4 linked regions of the Homo sapiens genome follow. The protein of the gene in region 2 interacts with the protein of the main gene of each other region in a pairwise test. Each region holds a gene or a part of one and is shown on either strand. Other genes may lie near its edges.

The links. Proteins that work in one complex are often made in the same cells at the same time.
Region 1: the proteins of AP1M1 (region 2) and MTF1 interact in binary tests that used the Homo sapiens proteins (3 or more experiments, as listed by UniProt).
Region 3: the proteins of AP1M1 (region 2) and AP1B1 interact in a two-hybrid assay, tested with the Homo sapiens proteins (2 studies listed by BioGRID, with this or other methods).
Region 4: the proteins of AP1M1 (region 2) and KIF24 interact in binary tests that used the Homo sapiens proteins (3 or more experiments, as listed by UniProt).

What each region holds. Positions count from the first base shown.
Region 1 is NC_000001.11:37,814,593-37,819,064, forward strand, and holds part of MTF1 (metal regulatory transcription factor 1), read right to left. Parts: intron 3,507-4,472; coding exon of another isoform or gene 3,486-3,506; exon of another isoform or gene 2,891-3,485; coding exon 2,827-2,890; intron 975-2,826; coding exon 544-974; 3' UTR 1-543. UniProt on the Homo sapiens protein: Zinc-dependent transcriptional regulator of cellular adaption to conditions of exposure to heavy metals. Binds to metal responsive elements (MRE) in promoters and activates the transcription of metallothionein genes like metallothionein-2/MT2A.
Region 2 is NC_000019.10:16,207,555-16,211,452, reverse strand, and holds part of AP1M1 (AP-1 complex subunit mu-1), read right to left. Parts: intron 3,435-3,898; coding exon 3,304-3,434; intron 2,424-3,303; coding exon 2,276-2,423; intron 1,094-2,275; coding exon of another isoform or gene 1,058-1,093; intron 1-1,057. UniProt on the Homo sapiens protein: Subunit of clathrin-associated adaptor protein complex 1 that plays a role in protein sorting in the trans-Golgi network (TGN) and endosomes.
Region 3 is NC_000022.11:29,378,571-29,383,042, forward strand, and holds part of AP1B1 (AP-1 complex subunit beta-1), read right to left. Parts: intron 1-4,472. UniProt on the Homo sapiens protein: Subunit of clathrin-associated adaptor protein complex 1 that plays a role in protein sorting in the late-Golgi/trans-Golgi network (TGN) and/or endosomes.
Region 4 is NC_000009.12:34,305,269-34,309,740, forward strand, and holds part of KIF24 (kinesin-like protein KIF24), read right to left. Parts: intron 1,174-4,472; coding exon 984-1,173; intron 1-983. UniProt on the Homo sapiens protein: Microtubule-dependent motor protein that acts as a negative regulator of ciliogenesis by mediating recruitment of CCP110 to mother centriole in cycling cells, leading to restrict nucleation of cilia at centrioles.

The DNA.
Region 1 (4,472 bases), on a different chromosome or scaffold from region 2:
ACCATCTCACCTGAACCCTGTCCAACTCACAGCTGCCTCACTGGCCTTTGCCACTGCCCTCTCTGATGGAGCAAGGGTCTGGCCTTCCAAGCAAATGTCAGCCTCAGATTCAAAAGACACATAGGAAGGAGCAACACCCAACACACTGAAAACTCCTGCCCGATCCACAAAGACCCCAGTGCAAGCGATGGGCAGCATCAGATTGATGGAAACCACACCCTTTCATTTAGAATTTTTATGCACACGAGTAACCTTAGTTTCCAAGTTCACATGACAACAAGCAAAAGTGACATACAGTGCAGCCAAACAGTTCACTTATAACTTAGCTTTTTTTGTTGTTTTTTTTGTTTTTTGTTTTTTTCCAAAGAATAGTTCCTTAAAATGGATGCTCCTGGGATGTGAATAAAGAAAATACGTCTGAAAGGTGAGGATTTCAAACAGTAGATTTCTTCATCCTTCAAATTTCTGACCCATGATGGCAGGCATTGTACCTCATGCCTCCTGCTCACCCGCTTTTCCCAGAGGTGAGCACACATGGGCCCTTCACTTGGAGAAGCTGCTGGTGAGGCCCATCTCCTCCTCCCCCTGCAGTAGTGCTTCAATGGGAATCAGATTGGACGGGGTGTCCAGGCTCTGGAGGGATAGAAACTCTGACACATCCATGGCACTTAATGTTTCTGTCTGAGGGTCTGAAGGAGTCTCTGCTTGTCGGCTTTGCTCACAGGAGGAGGGCAAGGTAGAGGATGATGACCCGGGAACAGGGGCTGAAGAGAAAGTCTGCGCTGGGAGCTGCAGGCTGGGCCCATCAGGAGCCTGGGGGCTCGGCTCTGGAGGGGGTGGGGAGGAGCAGCCCTTTCTCCTGCTGGATGCCCGCTCCTTTGCAGAGTCCCGGCATGCACACTGACACTGACATGCCTCTTCTTGTTTGATGATGATCACAGGAACACTGAGGCCAATCTGCTGGACAGAGCTCCCTGCGAGAGAGGCAAGAGAGACTGCTCTTCAAGTAGCTGCAGGGGCAGGAGCATGAGGGACAGGGATACATGGACTAGGTGAGAGCAGAGTGCCATGGGAACCATGGGAAGGATGGTTGCCACACTTCGGGCTTCGTTCTGCTTTAAATTGGACCACATGCCCTCTGAGGTAAAAGAGGGACACTCCCCAGCCCGAGACAAAGTCCCGTTTCCTTAGAAAGTCACACACACGATCTAGATGCACCCTGTATTTCCAGCTTCATTTCCAGTCATTCTCCATTGCACCCTCCCTGTGGAGGCCTACTTTTCCTGACACGTTCTTTATACCCCTGGGCCTGTGGGCTCTTCCTTACGACTAAAATCCCTGGACACCTCTCTTCTGGAGAACTGACACTCATCTTTCAAGACCTAGCTCACTCCCCCACTCTCTGTAGGCCTATGCAGAGGACTAGCTTGGATGAAGCCGGTACCCAGCCTCCCGGCACACATGCACAGTGCTGCTGTTTTCCTTCCACACCTCTCTCCTTGCGGTACAGGACCTGCTTGGTTCTGCCTGCCCAGGAGACTCTGAGCTCCTTTAGGACATCTTACTCATCTCTCTTTCTCTCATGTGTTGTACGAACACTTGCTCCATATTCAGCCAGGCTTTGTGTGTCTTGACAGAGCTAAAGACCAATGGGCAGGATGAGGTGCAGTGGCTCATGCCTGTATGTAATCCCTGTACTTTGGGAGACTGAGAAGGGAGGATTCTCTTGAGCCCAGGTGTTTGAGACCAGCCTGGCCAATATAGTGAGACTCTGTCTCTACACATAATAAAGAAAAATTAGGCCGGGCGTGGTGGCTCATGCCTATAATCCCAGCACTTTGGGAGGCCAAGGTGGGCAGATCACTTGATGTCAGGAGTTTGAGACCAGCCTGGCCAACATGGTGAAACCTTGTCTCTACTAAAAATACAAAAATTAGCTGGGCATAGTGTTGAATGCCTGTAATCCCAGCTACTTGGGAGACTGAGACATGAGAATCACTTGAACCTAGGAGGCAGGGGTTGCAGTGAGCCGGGATTGCGCCACTGCAGTCCAGCCTGGGCAACAGAACGTGACTCCATCTCAAAAAAAAAAAAAAAAAGAAAGAAAAAAAAGAAAATTAGCCAGGCATGGTGGTGGAGCATGCCTATGGTCCCAGCTACTTGGGGGGCTGAGGCAAGAGGATTGCCTGAACTCAGGAGGCCCAGGCTGCAGTGAGCTGTGATCGTGCCACCATACTGCAGCCTGGGTGACAGTGAGACCTTGTCTCAAAAACAAAACAAAACAAAGGCCAGTGGGCAGGAGAACAGGGTGGGAACGGGGAGGCCTGACAACTAGTGCTTTGGTTCCACCACAGATTCACTTACAACCTTGGGGGAGTCAATTAATTTTTCTGGGTCCCAGTGTCTTAATCTATAAAATAAAGAATTTGAATAAAAGGAACTTTCAGCTCTATATGTGTCTCTGACCCAGATGCTATTTCTTCATTACTGTAATTAGAAAAGAGTCCAGTGAATTAACAACTGCCCTCTTTAGCATTAGCTGTGATTCAAAAATTTTTTTCTGGCTACATTTTAAAGCTGTATCTGAAAGGGAAAGAACTGTTACTAGTTAAAGAATGTTAAACACGGTATTTTGGCCAGACGTATACTAACTTCTAATAGTTGTGAGAATATGAAATACTCTAGCCAACAATACAATGTGAAGAATTTAACTGAGGCTGTTTAAAGATTTTTAAAGTTTTAGAAACTGGGACAAAGCAATAATTAGCTGTGCCTCAAGGGACCCACAGAGTTGCCTTCTCTTAAGGCTAACATGGAATTACATACCTGGGCTACTGGCTACTGGTACTGCAGTGGTAAAAAACACCTTCTCAACTTTAGATGCTTGCTGCTGAAAAAAGAAAAAGAAATCTCATTTATAGCCACTGTAATATGGCAGATCCCCAGGGACCTGAAGCCTCACCAACTGTAATGGTCATCCAAGAAGACAGAAAACCCTTAGTGTTCAGGGATTTTTGTACTGAGTGATGTTTTGTTTGTGCTCTGACATGAGGTCACTGCACTGTTTGACATTCAGTGCTGACAACGTAGTTAGCTTTGTACGCCACTAGTTGGCTGGCTCCCAGCTGCCTAATCCAGTAGGTTCTGTATCCAAAGGCTCCTCCTCCTCCAAGGTTGCTTTTCTCAAGCAGATTGTCTTCTCAGAGGGATCCCAGGGCTAGCTTTCCTTCAGGCTCTCCACATTCCCTGCTGCCCCCTAGTACTTCTAAGAAAGCTGGAAAGTTCTTTTTTTCCCCCTCAGAGATTAAGCTGCATGCCAAGGACAGGTTAAGGCTTCCTCTCACAGGTAGACAGCCCTGTAAAGGCCTTGTGCTGTAAGGTGCACAGCATAGTTCAAGGGTGGGCCCTGGATTCAGCCACACTTGGATTCAAGTCCAAGCTCTGCCACTTATTAGTTGTTGGTGTTGGGCATGTGATTTAACTTCTTAAGAGTCTTGTTTCCCCACCTGTAAAAACAGGAATAATAACTACTATGGATGGAGTATCTGTCCCCTCCAAAACTCATGTTGAAAGTTAATCCCCAGTGTGGCAGTATTGAGAGGCTGGGTTTTTAAGAGGTGACTGGGTCATGAATGAATTAATTCACTCATGGATTAATGAGTTATCATGGGAGTGGGACTGGTGGCTTTATAAGAAGAGTAAGAGAAGGAGGGTGTGGTGGTACATGCCTATAGTCCCAGCTATTTGGAAGACTGAAGGAGGATCACCTGAGCCCAGGAGTTCAAGGCCAGCCCAGCCTGGAACATAGTGAAATTCTCTCTCTTAAAAAAGGCCAGGCGCAGTGGCTCACGCCTGTAATCCCAGCACTTTGGGAAGCCGAGGCGGGTGAATCACAAGGTCAGGAGATCGAGACCATCCTAGCTAACATAGTGAAACTCCATCTCTACTAAAAATACAAAAAATTAGCCGGGCATGGTGGCGGGCGCCTGTAGTCCCAGCTAATCGGGAGGCTGAGGCAGGAGAATGGTGTGAACCCGGGTGGTGGAGCTTGCAGTGAGCCGAGATCGCGCCACTGCACTCCAGCCTAGGTGACAGAGCGAGACTCCATCTCAAAAAAAAAGGCCAGGTGTGGTGGCTCACGCCTGTAATCCCAGCACTATGGGAGGCCGAGGCGGGCAGATCACGAGGTCAGGAGATCGAGACCATCCTGGCTAATACGGTGAAACCCCATCTCTACTAAAAATACAAAAATTAGACGGGTGTGGTGGCGGGTGCCTGTAATCCCAGCTACTCGGGAGGCTGAGGCAAGAGAATGGTGTGAACCTGGGAGGCGGAGGTTGCAGTGAGCCGAGATCGCACCACTGCACTCCAGCCTGGACAACAGAGTGAGACTCCGTGTCAAAACAAAAAAAAAAAAATGAAGAGGAAGAGAGGCCCGAGCTAGGATGTTCAACCCCTCGCCATGTGATGCC
Region 2 (3,898 bases):
AAAACTGGCACAAGACAAAGATGCCCTCTCTCACCACTCCTATTCAATATAGTATTGGGGGCTGGGCATGGTGGCCGACGCCTGTAATCCCAACACTTAGGGAGGCCGAGGAAGGCAGATCACCTGAGGTCAGGAGTTCGATACCACCCTGACCAACATAGTGAAACCCTGTCTCGACTAAAAATACAAAAATTAGCCGGGCATGGTGGCATGCGTCTGTAATCCCAGCTACTTGGGAGGCTGAGGCTGGAGAAGCACTTGAAGCCCGGAGGTGGAGGTTGCACTGAGCCAAGCATGCCACTTGTACTACAGCCTGGGCTACAAAGTGAGACTCTGTCGAAAAAAAAAAAACACTGCTAAGAGAATAAAAAGATAAGCTACAGACTGGGGGAAAATACTTGCAAATCACCTATCTGACAGAGGACTTCTATCTGGAACACACAAAGAACTATCAAGGCTCAACTATATGAAAATAACCCAATTTAAAAATGCTAAAAAGATGCACAGAGACATTTCTCCAAAGAGGATATACAGATGACAAAGAAACATGTAAAGCAATGCTCAACATTATTAGCCATTAAGAAAATGGAATAGGCCAGGCGTGGTAGCTCACACCTGTAATCCCAGCACTTTGGGAGGCAGAGGCGGGTGGATCATCTGAGGTCAGGAGTTCGAGACCAGCCTGGCCAACATGGTGAAACCCCGTCTCTAGTAAAAATACAAAAATGAGCCAGGCCTGGTGGTGGGTGCCTGTAATCCCAGCTACTCGGGAGGCTGAGGCAGGAGAATCGCTTAAGCCTGGGAGGCAGAGGTTGCAGTGAATGGAGATAGTGCCATTGCACTCCAGCCTGGGCGACAAGAGCGAGACTGTGTCTCAAAAACAAAAACAAAAACAAAACACAAAACTGTGCTGACATACTACTACATACCTATTAGGATGACAAAAATAAAACTACTGACAAAGGATGTGGGGTCATCACAACCCTCATCTGTTGCTGGCGAGAATGCAAAACAGCAATGGTTTGGCAGTTTCTTATAAAGGTAAACATACACTTACCGTGTGACCCAGCCATCCCACTCCTGGGTATTTACCCTAGAGAGATGAAAACTTATGTCCACACATAAACCTGGACACGACATGTTTCTAGCAACTCTATTGACAATTGCCAAAGATTGGAAAACCACCCAAATGTCCTTCTGTGGTTCAGAACAGAAAATAAATATAAATAAATATAAAAGGGAACAGACTTTTGATATGCAAAACAATTGGATTTGGATGAATCGCAAAGAATTAGAATGAGTTAAAGCAGCCAGACTCGAGAGCTCATGACTGTATGACGCCATTCATACGACAATCTCAGAAAGACAGCTGCGGTGACATATGATGCCACTCGTGTGACAATCACAACACGATGAAGACTCCAGTGATGGAGAACAGTTCAATGGTGGCCAGGAAATGGGGAAGAGGGGAGCATGGAGCTACAAAGGGGCAACATGAGGAGGTTTTGAGGTTCTGTGTCCTGGGTGTGGTGATGGGTACACAAATCTGTACAAGCGCTAAAATTCATTTTCAAAACGTCAACTTTCCTCATAATTAAAAAACCAAAAGAAAAAAATATACAAAACAGTAACACTGAACGCAAAATCAAAACCCAAACAACAACCACCACCAAAAAAACAAGCTGCAGGAGAACCACATCTTATGATCTCAGGTTTATAGAAAAATCAATATACTTGTTTCTGTCTGTCTACAGAATGAGGCCCGAGAGGGTGACGGTGAATAAATCCTAATCTTTCTGATTATAGGAGCCCTTTAGTTTCTTTTTTTTTTTTCTGTGCATGGTGACTGATAAGAGCCCTTCACTTTCTAACCTCATACCCTGCTTCTAATTTTTAAAAATAATGTGCATGTATGGATTCTCAGTCAGCATAAATGCTAATAAAGAAAACAAGCTTTAGCCGAGCGTGGTGGCGGGTGCCTATAATCCCGGCTACACGGGAGGCTGAGGCAGGAGAATCGCCTGAACCTGGGAGGCGGAGGTTGCAGTGAGCCGAGATCGTGTCACCACACTCTAGCCTGGGCGACAGAATGAGATTCCGTCTCAAAAAAAAAAGATAAGACAAACTCACATTTCAATGAGTGGCCCAAACTGAATCCTGCTATCTGTTACCACACAGAACGGCTCTCGGGGCTTTGCCAGTTTTAAAATGCTGTGTTTATTTCTATCGTGGAAGAGATAAAACCCTACAGAAGAAGGAAAGAAAAGAGGCCTACCAAGAGGTTGACAGACTCGATGACGTCCAAGAACACCTCATTCTTCCGATACTTGATGCCTTCGGACCGCCAGGACACCGCGTTGGTGACGGTGGCTGGTGGCCGCGGGGCCCCTGTTTCCAGCTTGTGGCCTTCCTGAGTGATGTACCTGTGGGGCCACACGCTCAGAGTGAAGGAGGTGGTACCCGCACCAACGCCACAGCTTCTGGCCTTGACATTTCGGCAGGGTTGGGTGGGGGGTACAGGGCAGGTTCTGACCGACTTGAAAATAGCCCTTGGATTTCAGCAGCTCCAGAAAAGGCAGCCTCTGGTTCACCTGGGGCTGCTTCATACAGAAAAATCTTCACAATTTCCAAAAGCCAATACACTCAAGTTATAGAGGCTGAAGTGCTCATTTTGGGGGACCAAGAAGACCATGTTGGGAAGGAAAACAAGAAGTGGGTGTGAGCTGCTTCCCGTCCCTGCTGAGCACGTGGATGGAACTGACGCCTCGGAGTGTAACCTGGTGACCCCATCCTGCTGAAGGAGCAGGAGGTGCAGCGGTTAGGAACACAGGCTTCTCTGGGAGTCTGCTTGCTTGTCCCCTGTAAAATGGGGAGACGGTATACGGGGAGGCTGTGAATCGAGTGAATGTGAAGTGCTGGGGCCCGGCCCCCAGGAAGCACTTAATTCACATTGCTTCTTATCTGAAGGGCAGGATTCCAAAGAGGGGAGATTTCGATCACAGTCTCATTTTATGACAGTAAAAACAAGGGAGGTGACTCCTTAGTAGCAAGGTACTGAAGGCATCTGTGTGGATGGAGAGTAAAGATGAGGAGCAGGAAAAGCACGGTTATGTGGGGGCGTAGAGGAGGAAACGAATTAAAACCACTAAGAGCAACTTAGTAAAAACCCGAATACTGCTGGAGGTGGGAGGCAGGTGGGGGACAACATGAACACAAATTTGCCCCTTCTGTTTCCACACCTGATGACGTCGATGTCATGACACCGCCCAGGCCTGGCCCCAGGCCCCACCCCTGCCCACTCACTCCTGCAGGATCTTGCTGTCGGTGGTCTGGGGGTAGCCGAAGTCCATGAGCTCGTCCAGCAGCTCGTAGATGATAACAAAGTTGTCCCGGATGCTCTCCTCCTCCAGCTCCTTGAAGTACTCGGAAAACACCTGTGGCGGTTGGGGAGGGAGGGAGGAATGGGAGGCAGATCATTGAGCGGACGGATGAGGAATGAATGAACGCTTGCACACATTCATTTGCCCGCTAAGTCCTACCAACAGCCTACTTCCCAGGCTCGGTGGTGTGCTACAGGGCCCTGGACCCAGGTTATGGGGCAGGACAGCAGTGGCTGGCTGTGGGGTGGGGCCAGGCTGGAGCCACTGCAGATGTCCCGAGGCCTTCAGAAGCTCTGCGTTCCCATTCTCTTCCCTGCCCAGACACCCGCAGACAGGCAGCCCCTCCTGAGCGACTGTAACTGTCATCCCTTTCTGAGTCTGGAGTGACTCAGGCAAGGACCTGATGAGCTGCCATCTTCCCCATTTCAGTGGAAAGCTTGATGCATCTTCCCCATTTCAATGGAAAGCTCAGAAGGTTAAGGAAGGGACGCCAAAGAAGAGGGGCTGTTAGAAGCACT
Region 3 (4,472 bases), on a different chromosome or scaffold from region 2:
AAAAAAAGGCCGGGCGCAGTGGCTCACGCCTGTAATCCCAGCACTTTGGGAGGCCGAGGCGGGCGGATCATGAGGTCAGGAAATCGAGACCATCCTGGCTAACACGGTGAAACCCCATCTCTACTAAAAATACAAAAAATTAGCTGGGCCTGGTGGCGGGTGCCTGTAGTCCCAGCTACTCGGGAGGCTGAGGCAGGAGAATGGTGTGAACTCAGGAGGCGGAGCTTGCAGTGAGCTGAGATCGTGTCACTGCACTCCAGCCTGGGCAACAGAGCAAGACTCCGTCCCACAAAAAAAAAAAAAAAAAAAAGTCAGTTTCCTGAGGCCCACTAGCAATTAAAGACTTCAGAATGAAAAGGAACTAAAGGCAGACAAATGTCACATGCAAACGTTCTTATATTGGCTTTGAGTCTCTAGAACTCCATTCTAGAATCAGGTACCAGTTCTGAACTGATCTATAAGCCGTAATGTGCGGAAAGATCTGCTGTGAAGAAAAAAAAGTGATGGGCGCAGTGGCTCATGCCTGTAATCCCAGCACTTTAGGAGACCGAGGTGGGCAGATCACTTGAGGTGAGGAGTTCGAGACCAGCTTGGCCAACATGGCGAAACCTATCTCTACTAAAAATACAAAAATTAGCTGGACATGGTGGCTCGCACCTATAGTCCCAACTACTCAGGAGTCTCAGGCAGGAGAATTGCTTGAACCTGAAATCGCACCACTGCACTCTGGCCTGGGTGACAGAGCAAGACTCCATCTCAAAAAAAGAAAAAGTTCCTCTGGACTTGAAAATAAAGTAAGTAAGGCTTCTTCTGAACAATACTTAAATTAATCGAGATGAGGAGAAAGAGGCCAGAGACTACAGAACAACGCTCTTTGTGATCTCGGTTTTCCCATCTATGTAATGGGAACACTTTCTGAAGATCTGTCAAATTAACAGTGTAGAGCACCATCCGCTCCATGCCTGGAACTGTGCCCCACACGGAAGCATGCACACAGTAAACAAAGGACAGTCTTTTCTCACTGAGCTCTTACAGATTTAGAGGCCAGGTAAAGGACTGCAGGGGAACGGCAGAGTGATCATGCCTCCAGAGGAGGAGGGTTCTGAGATAGGTGGAGCAGCAAGGGAAGTTCTCTTAGATGAAGAGGGGCTTGGCTGACGCAAAAAGACAGGTCAGATTTAGAGAGGCAAGAGTGGAGGTGGCAAAGAGATGCACCACGAAATTGCCAATGTGACAACGGAGGGAACTGACAACAATTAAATCAACACTAGCTGGGGAACGGCTTCTTGCTAAGTGATTTACAACCCTTCTCATTTAATTCTCAGGGTAATTCAGTTAAAAAACAAGGAATTAGAGACACTGAGAGATGAGTGATTTACCTAAGGCCAAAACAAGAAGTCTGTGAGCCCCGCTGCCTGGCTGAAGGAAAGGACCTGGAAGGGAAAGGAGCAGACGAGGCTAGGGAAGGAAGAATGAGATTCAGAAATGGTTCTGGATGCCAGGTGTGTTGGGTCCTGCCAGGAGAAGACACAATGGTCATGTCAAATGACAAGTCTCATGCTGATAAGCATTTGACACTACTGATCACTCCCTCCTTCCTGAAAACCTGTCTTCCCTCAAATGCTAGGATGCCATGCTCTCTGCCTGCCCTCCTACGCCACTGTCTGCGCCTTCTCAGTCTCCTTTGCTTGTTCCTCTCCTTCTCCTTCAACACTGTGTGCCCCAGGGCTCAGGCCTGGTACCTCTTCTCTTCCCCATCTATGCTATTTTGCCTCTTTGGTGGATCATCCGGTATCACAGCTTTACATACCATCCACATAGCCCAACCTCTCCCCAGAACCCCCGGGCACACATGTCCAAACTGTGTAACTGACATCTCCACATTACTGTGGAGATGACTAGCAGGCAGCTCAAACAATGGGATAAAAACTGACCTCCTGCTTCCTTCCTTTCCCCAACTGGCTCACCCTGCAGTCTACATCATCTAGTTCCTGCCAGCACCATCTTTAAGAGGGCCTCAGGCTAAAAACCTGAGTCACTCTTAACAACATACTCTCCTTTAAATCTATCGGCAAATCCTATTGGATTCCGACCTTCAAAATGAATCTAGAATCCATGAGCAGCTTCTCACTAGCTCCATCACTAACCCCAGCTCCAAGCCAGCATCACCTTCCATTTAGAGTGCTAACAAAGCTGCTCCCACACTGCTTTGCTGACACCCCATCTCAGCAACAGCCAGGATGATCCTCTTACAGTCCAAATCAGACAGTAGCACCCCTCTGCTCAACGTCTTCCAACGGTTCTCTGTCTTACTCATAGTAAAAGCCAAAGTCCCTACCATGGCCTCATAGCCCACAGGTCCTATAAGAGATGCATGCCCCTCCTCTCTCACGCATGCACCCTGCTGGCCATTACCCTTTGAACTCTTCTCCCCATCATTCCCTCAGCTCCAGCCGCACAGGCCTCTTTACTGATCCTCGAACACAACATGCATCCACCCCAGGGCCTTTGCCCGTGCTATTCACTTTGCTAGGAAGGCTCTTTCTCCAGACAGCCTCATGGCTCAGTCCCTCACCTCTTTAGGTCTTGGCTCAAATGTCATCTTCTCATTGAGGCCTTCTTTGACCATTTTATTTAAAATTGTATACCCCTCCCCCATAATCCCCACCACTTCCTAACCCTCTTTGCCCTTTTTCCCTTCAAAGTACTTATTACCTATTACCTACACACTATAAAATATACTTACGTTGTCTATTCTTTCTCCCCCTATAAATTCCCTAATGTAAATGGGGGTAAGGATTTTGTCCATTTTGTTCACTATCATATTCCTGACTCCTAGGCTGGTACCTGGCAAACAGGTGTTCAATAAGTAGCTGAATGACCAGTGCTCAACTCTCTTCTTGGGCAAATTTCATGTTTTGTAAACCAACCTCTGCTAGAGCAGCTTCTCCATGTTCCATTCACGGGGTTATCCAGGATCAGAGATACATCTGCTCTGATTGTCAAGCTATTCTAACTATACTGAAATTGAACATGCCAGACCCCTAGCACATTTACAGCCAATAAATGGAAGTTAAGTGAATAAATTATGAGAGAGAGAAGAAATGGCAAGGGTAGAAGATCAGGTGGCAACATCTCCAGTGGGAGAAACGTTCAGTGAGGCCAAGTCACTCTCACCTGCTCCCATAGGTATCAGCTCAGAGTGACAGAGCTGCAGAAGGTGGGGGGCTCTGGCACAGGATATAAGTACCAGGTCCTTGCCTCCAGGCCCACATGCCTTCTTTGTTCCTCTAACAGCCAACTCTTCACTATCTCTACCCTTGCTGATCCTTCTGCTTGGATTATCCTCTCCTAACTGCTCCAATTTATCCTTCAAATCTCAGCTTAGATGATCTCATTTCAAAGATAACTTCCCTTCAGCGTGATACCTCTGATGCTTAAAAAAAGAAACAAAAAAAAAATACCTTTCCTACATGTACTATCTTTTTTGTTGTTGTTGCTAGAGACAGATAGTCTTGCTCTGTCACCCAGGCTAGAGTGCAGGGGTGTGATCATAGCTCACTGCAGCATCAAACTACTGGGCTCAAGCAATTCTGCTTCAGCCTCCTGAGTAGCTGGGACTACAGGCGTGTGCCATGCCCAGCTAATCTTTTCAAGTTTTTTGTGGAGTCTCGCTAAATTATCCAGGCTGGTCTTGAACTCCTGGCCTCAAATGATCCTCCCACCTCAGCCTCCCAAGTAGCTGGGATTACAGGCATGAGCCACGGCACCTGGCCATGCATGTACAACCTTAAGAAGGTATTTCTCTGTCCACATCCTTCAGTGTTCTTATTCATACATTTCCTGAGCATCTTTCGTGTACCAGAAACACTTCTACATGTTGGGAATGCAGGAGTGAAAGAAACAGACAAAAATCCTTCCCTACATGGAGTTTATGTCCTAATGGGGGAAAGAGACCGTAAGCAAGATAAGTGAGTAAAATATATAACATCTTAGATAGTGATAAACACAATGGAGGCAAAAAAGAGGAGGGAAGGAGGATAGGGAGGGGAGAGGGGAGGAAGGGAAGTTAAAATTTAACTAGGGTGGCCATAGAAGGCCTCCTTGAGAAGGTGACAGGTGACACTGTCTGCGAAAGAGCCTGCCAAGCAAAAGAGATCGCCAGTGCAAAGGTGAGTATGTGCCTGGCATGTCTGAGGAACAGAAGGGAAGTGAATGTGGCTGAGTGAGCAATGAGGAAAACAGTGGGTCAGGAAGTCACAGGAGAATGCAGGGGGCCTTATGATCAAGCGTGAGGTCTCTGGCTTTTACTGAGTGAGCTGGAGCCACTGGAGGGTTTTGAGCAGAGGAGTCCTGACATCTGACCTATATTTTAATAAGTTCTGGCTGCTATGCCTTTTGTTTCCCTTGTGGCTTATTGGTTTTTCTAATCATTGCATTTTTTTCTCTACTTCTTTGTCTCTCTCTCCCAT
Region 4 (4,472 bases), on a different chromosome or scaffold from region 2:
AAACCCTTATATGTTAGATGTGAAATCATATCTCTGGATTTTATTTACCCACTGCAATCTACCCTGTATAAAGTGGTCTGCTCAGAGCCCAATTTTCGCCAATTAAGTATAAGCCCAAGACAGCTGAGAATCAAAATAAGCACGTGGCTGGCAATTGTCGGTCCTGTTGCCCAAAAAGATATTGTCCATCATTAAACCCAAGTCTCAAAGTCAGCAGAATGAGAAGTTCACACTGTGAGATGCAAGCAAGAATGGAAATCAACTGTGTGACATCTCATAGTCATATATTCAGTGACTGGTCCTGTTGACAACTACTTAATTATTTATTTGTTTTTTATTTTTATATTCTTTTAGAGGCAGATCCTCCCTCTGTTGCCCAGGCTGGAGTGCAGTGGTGCAATCATAGCTCACTGTAATGCAGAACTCCTGGGCTCAAGTGATCCTCCTGCCTCAGCCTCCTGAGTAGTTAAGACTACAGGTACACACCACCATGCTGGGCTAGTTTTAAGATCTTTTCTGGAGAGACAGGATCTCGCTATGGTGCCCAGGGTGGTCTCAAACTCTTGGGCTCAAGTGATCCTCCCACTGCAGCCTCCCAAAGCACTGGGATTATAGGCGTGAGCCACCACACCTGGCCCCACTTCATTATTTAAATTATTTTTATTCCTTCATTCCTCCTTTTTTTTGCTGAATATGTATAATTAAATTCACACAAAGCATGTTAAGTGAATATATGATGTAGCTCCACTGCACAAGAGAAATTGTTTTTGTATCCCCTATTGCACCGTCTTTTGAAAAAATGAAGGCCCTGGATATCAATGACTTAATACAGTGTCACATCAGGAATGAATGTCAACACCCGAACCAGAAACTTGATTTTCAGTGTTCTAACAGAAACTTGTATGCCACCACTCAAACAAAAAGCAAAAAAAAATGACATACTTGATAATATTAGTTCCAAACATAAAACGAAAACATCATACCTGCAGAATATATTGAGTGAGGTCAACTGCTTCTTTCTTCTCATGCACAAGTAGAGTTTCTTTGTCTTCTACAGTAATAATATTAATTTCTCCACGACGTACCTCCCTCATGCCCAGGGGGCGTTTTCGAACACAAACTCTGATTTTCTCCATCTCAGTCCAAGGATTCTGTTTCTCTGAAGTGTTCTGTCTAATATGTTTATAAACAGGCTTTTAATTTTTAATAATAGGACAAGATTACTTAACAGGTCAAAGTATTGGTACCTTTTAGCCGGGCGCGGTGGCTTACGCCTGTAATCCCAGCACTTTGAGAGGCCGAGGTGGGCGGATCACGATGTCAGGAGATCAAGACCATCCTGGCTAACACGGTGAAACCCCATCTCTACTAAAAATACAAAAAATTAGCCAGGCATAGTGGCGTGCGCCTGTAATCCCAGCTACTTGGGAGGCTGAGGCAGGAGAATGGCGTGAACCCGGGAGGCAGAGCTTGCAGTGAGCCGAGATTGCGCCACTGCACTCCAGCCTGGGCGACAGAGCCAGATTCTGTCTCAAAAAAAAAAAAAGTATTGGTACATTTTGCTGTATATTAGGCATAATATATTTCTTAAAGTTACAAAGTAAAGTGTCAACCCTGAGAAAGTTCTTCTATCTCCATCCCCACCCTGCTCCGCCCTTTTCCTTGCAAAAACACAAATAACAGAACAACAACAAAAAACCAACCAACAAACAAAAAACCCCTAAGAGATCATATATAGAATACTATTTTATACAATTGTTTCATATCAATTCTGATTTCCTTAGCCCTCCAACTGGCTGCTGAAAAAAAATTTTTTTTGAGATAGGATCTCACTCTGTCACCCAGACTGGAGTACAGTGGCACAGCCATGGCTCATTGCAGCCTCAACCTCCAGGGTTCAAGAAATTCTACCTCAGCCTCCTAAGTAGCTAGGACTATAGCATACAACACCGCAGCTGGCTAATTTTTGTAATTTTTGTAGGGACAGGGTCCCACTATCTTGCCCAGGCTGGTCTTCAACTTATGGCCTCAAGCAATCCTCCCATTTTGGCCTGTCAAAGTGCTGGGATTACAAGCATCAGTCATCACGCTCAGCCTGGAGAATAATTTTTTTACTGGGATCTGAATTGGTTTAAAAAAAAAAAAACCAGCAAATAATTTTCTAATATAATGAATGCATAAAGCACTAATTTTATGGCATGTTTTAAAGCAAATTTTATTTTCTTAACCAACATTTAGGGACTTTAAAATGCATCATTTTTGCATGAAACTGCAGATGGAATAAATAAATGACAGAATAAATGAAATGTACCATTTTGAGGTACTGTGGGAAAATCGTGACAATCATTGAAACTGGATGACGGGCCAGGTGCGGTGGCTCACGCCTGTAATCCTAGCACTTCGAGAGGCTGAGGCGGGCAGATCACTTGAGGTCAGGAGTTCGAGACCAGCCTGGCCAACATGGTGAAACCCCATCTCTACTAAAAATATAAAACTTAGCTGGGCATGCTCACTTAAACCCAGGAGGTGGAGTTCACAGGTGAGATAGTGCCATTGCATTCCAGCCTGGGCAACAGAGCAAGACTCTGTCTGAAAAAAAAAAAAAAAAAAAGAAAAAAGAAAAAGAAATTGGATGATGGACATATTGGGATTCAGTGTTCTATTTTTTTCTTCTTTTGCATATGTTTGATTTTTCACAAGAAAAGGGAATTTTTTGTTTTGAGACAGGGTCTTGCTCTATCACCCAGACTGGAGTGCAGTGGTGCGAGCATAGCTCACTGAAGCCTCAACCTCCTGGGCTGAAGCCATCCTCCCACTTCAGCCAATAGTAGCTGGAACTACAGGTGCACACCATCATGTCTGGCTAATTTTTGTATTTTTGTAGAAACAGGGTCTCACCATGTTGCCCAGGCTGGCCTCGAACTCCTGGGCTCAAGCAATCTGCCTGCCTTGGCCTCCCAAAATGCCAGGATTGCAGGCATGAGCCACTGTGCTCATCAAAAATGAAAATTTTTAATGCTTTTTTTTTTTTTTGAGACAGAGTTTCATTGTGTCACCCAGGCTGGAGTGCAGTGGCACAATCTTGGCTCACTGCAACCTCTGCCTCCTGGGTTCAAGCGATTTTCCTACCTCAGCCTCTAGAATAGCTGGGACTGCAGGCACCTGCCATGACGCTCTGCTAATTTTTGTATTTTTAGTAGAGATGGGGTTTAGCCATGTTGGCCAGGCTGACCTTGAACTCCTGACCTCAGGTGATCCACCCGCCTTGGCCTCCCAAAGTGCTGGGATTAGAGGTGTGAGCCACTGTGCCTGGCCTAATGCATCATTTTAATAAGGGTTTTGTGTTAAAATCTTTAGTTGTTGGATATCAATAACCTAATCATATAAAGCTGATCAAAGAGGATAGAAAATGTTTGGTCCTTTTTAAAATTGTTCAGGGCTCTAGGATGACTCATATGAACAAAAGGCCCATAGTTTCAAGTTCAAGGAGCAAAAAGACATGCATGTTTTTTTAAAAAGCTCTAGTTTGGGCAGGGCAGAGTGGCTCTCACCTGTAATCCCAGTGCTTTGGGAAGCTGAGGTGGGAGGATCACTTGAGGCCAGGAGTTCAAGACCAGCCTGGGTAACATAGTGAGATCCCCAACTCTACAAAAAATTGAAAAATTAGCTGGGGACAGTGGTGCATACCTGTAGTCCTAGCTACTTGGGTGGCTGAGGCAGGAGGATCACTTGACCTCAGGAGTTTGAGGCCCCAGTGGACTATGACTGCACCACTGCACTCCAGCCTGGGTGACAGAGCAAGACCCTGTCTCTACAAATCAAACAAACAAACAAATAAACAAAAGAGTCAAATAAATGAAATGGTAATGGTTAAACTAAAATATCCATCCTATCCTTGATGGTGTTAAATAAAGTGGTATTTTTACTTATAAGTAATTCCAATTTAGATTTTTATGTACTGTTCAGTAAAAAAGTAATATTCAAGAAAATAGGCCAGGCGTGGTGGCTCACGCCTGTAATCCCAGCATTTTGGGAGGCTGAGGCGGGTGGATCACAAGGTCAGGAGATCAAGACCATCCTGGCTAACATGGTGAAACCCCACCTCTACTAAAAATACAAAAAATTAGCCAGGCATAGTGGCGGGCGCCTGTAGTCCCAGCTACTCGGAAGGCTGAGGCAGGAGAATGGCATGAACCCGGGAGGCGGAGCTTGCAGTGAGCAGAGATTGCACCACTGCACTCCAGCCTGGGCGACAGTGCGAGACTCCGTCTCAAAAAAAAAAAAAAAAAAAAGAAAATATTTACTCCTTCACCGCTGAGGTAACCAATGCAATAGCAACAATCTGCCTTCATAGTCAAGGAACAATCTATTCCTCTCAGAATTAAAAGAAGAAAACAGTATTACATGCTCTGTGATCTCCTAGACCAAACAAAATGTTTTCAGAAATATTATAATAAAAATTCACTTATGTA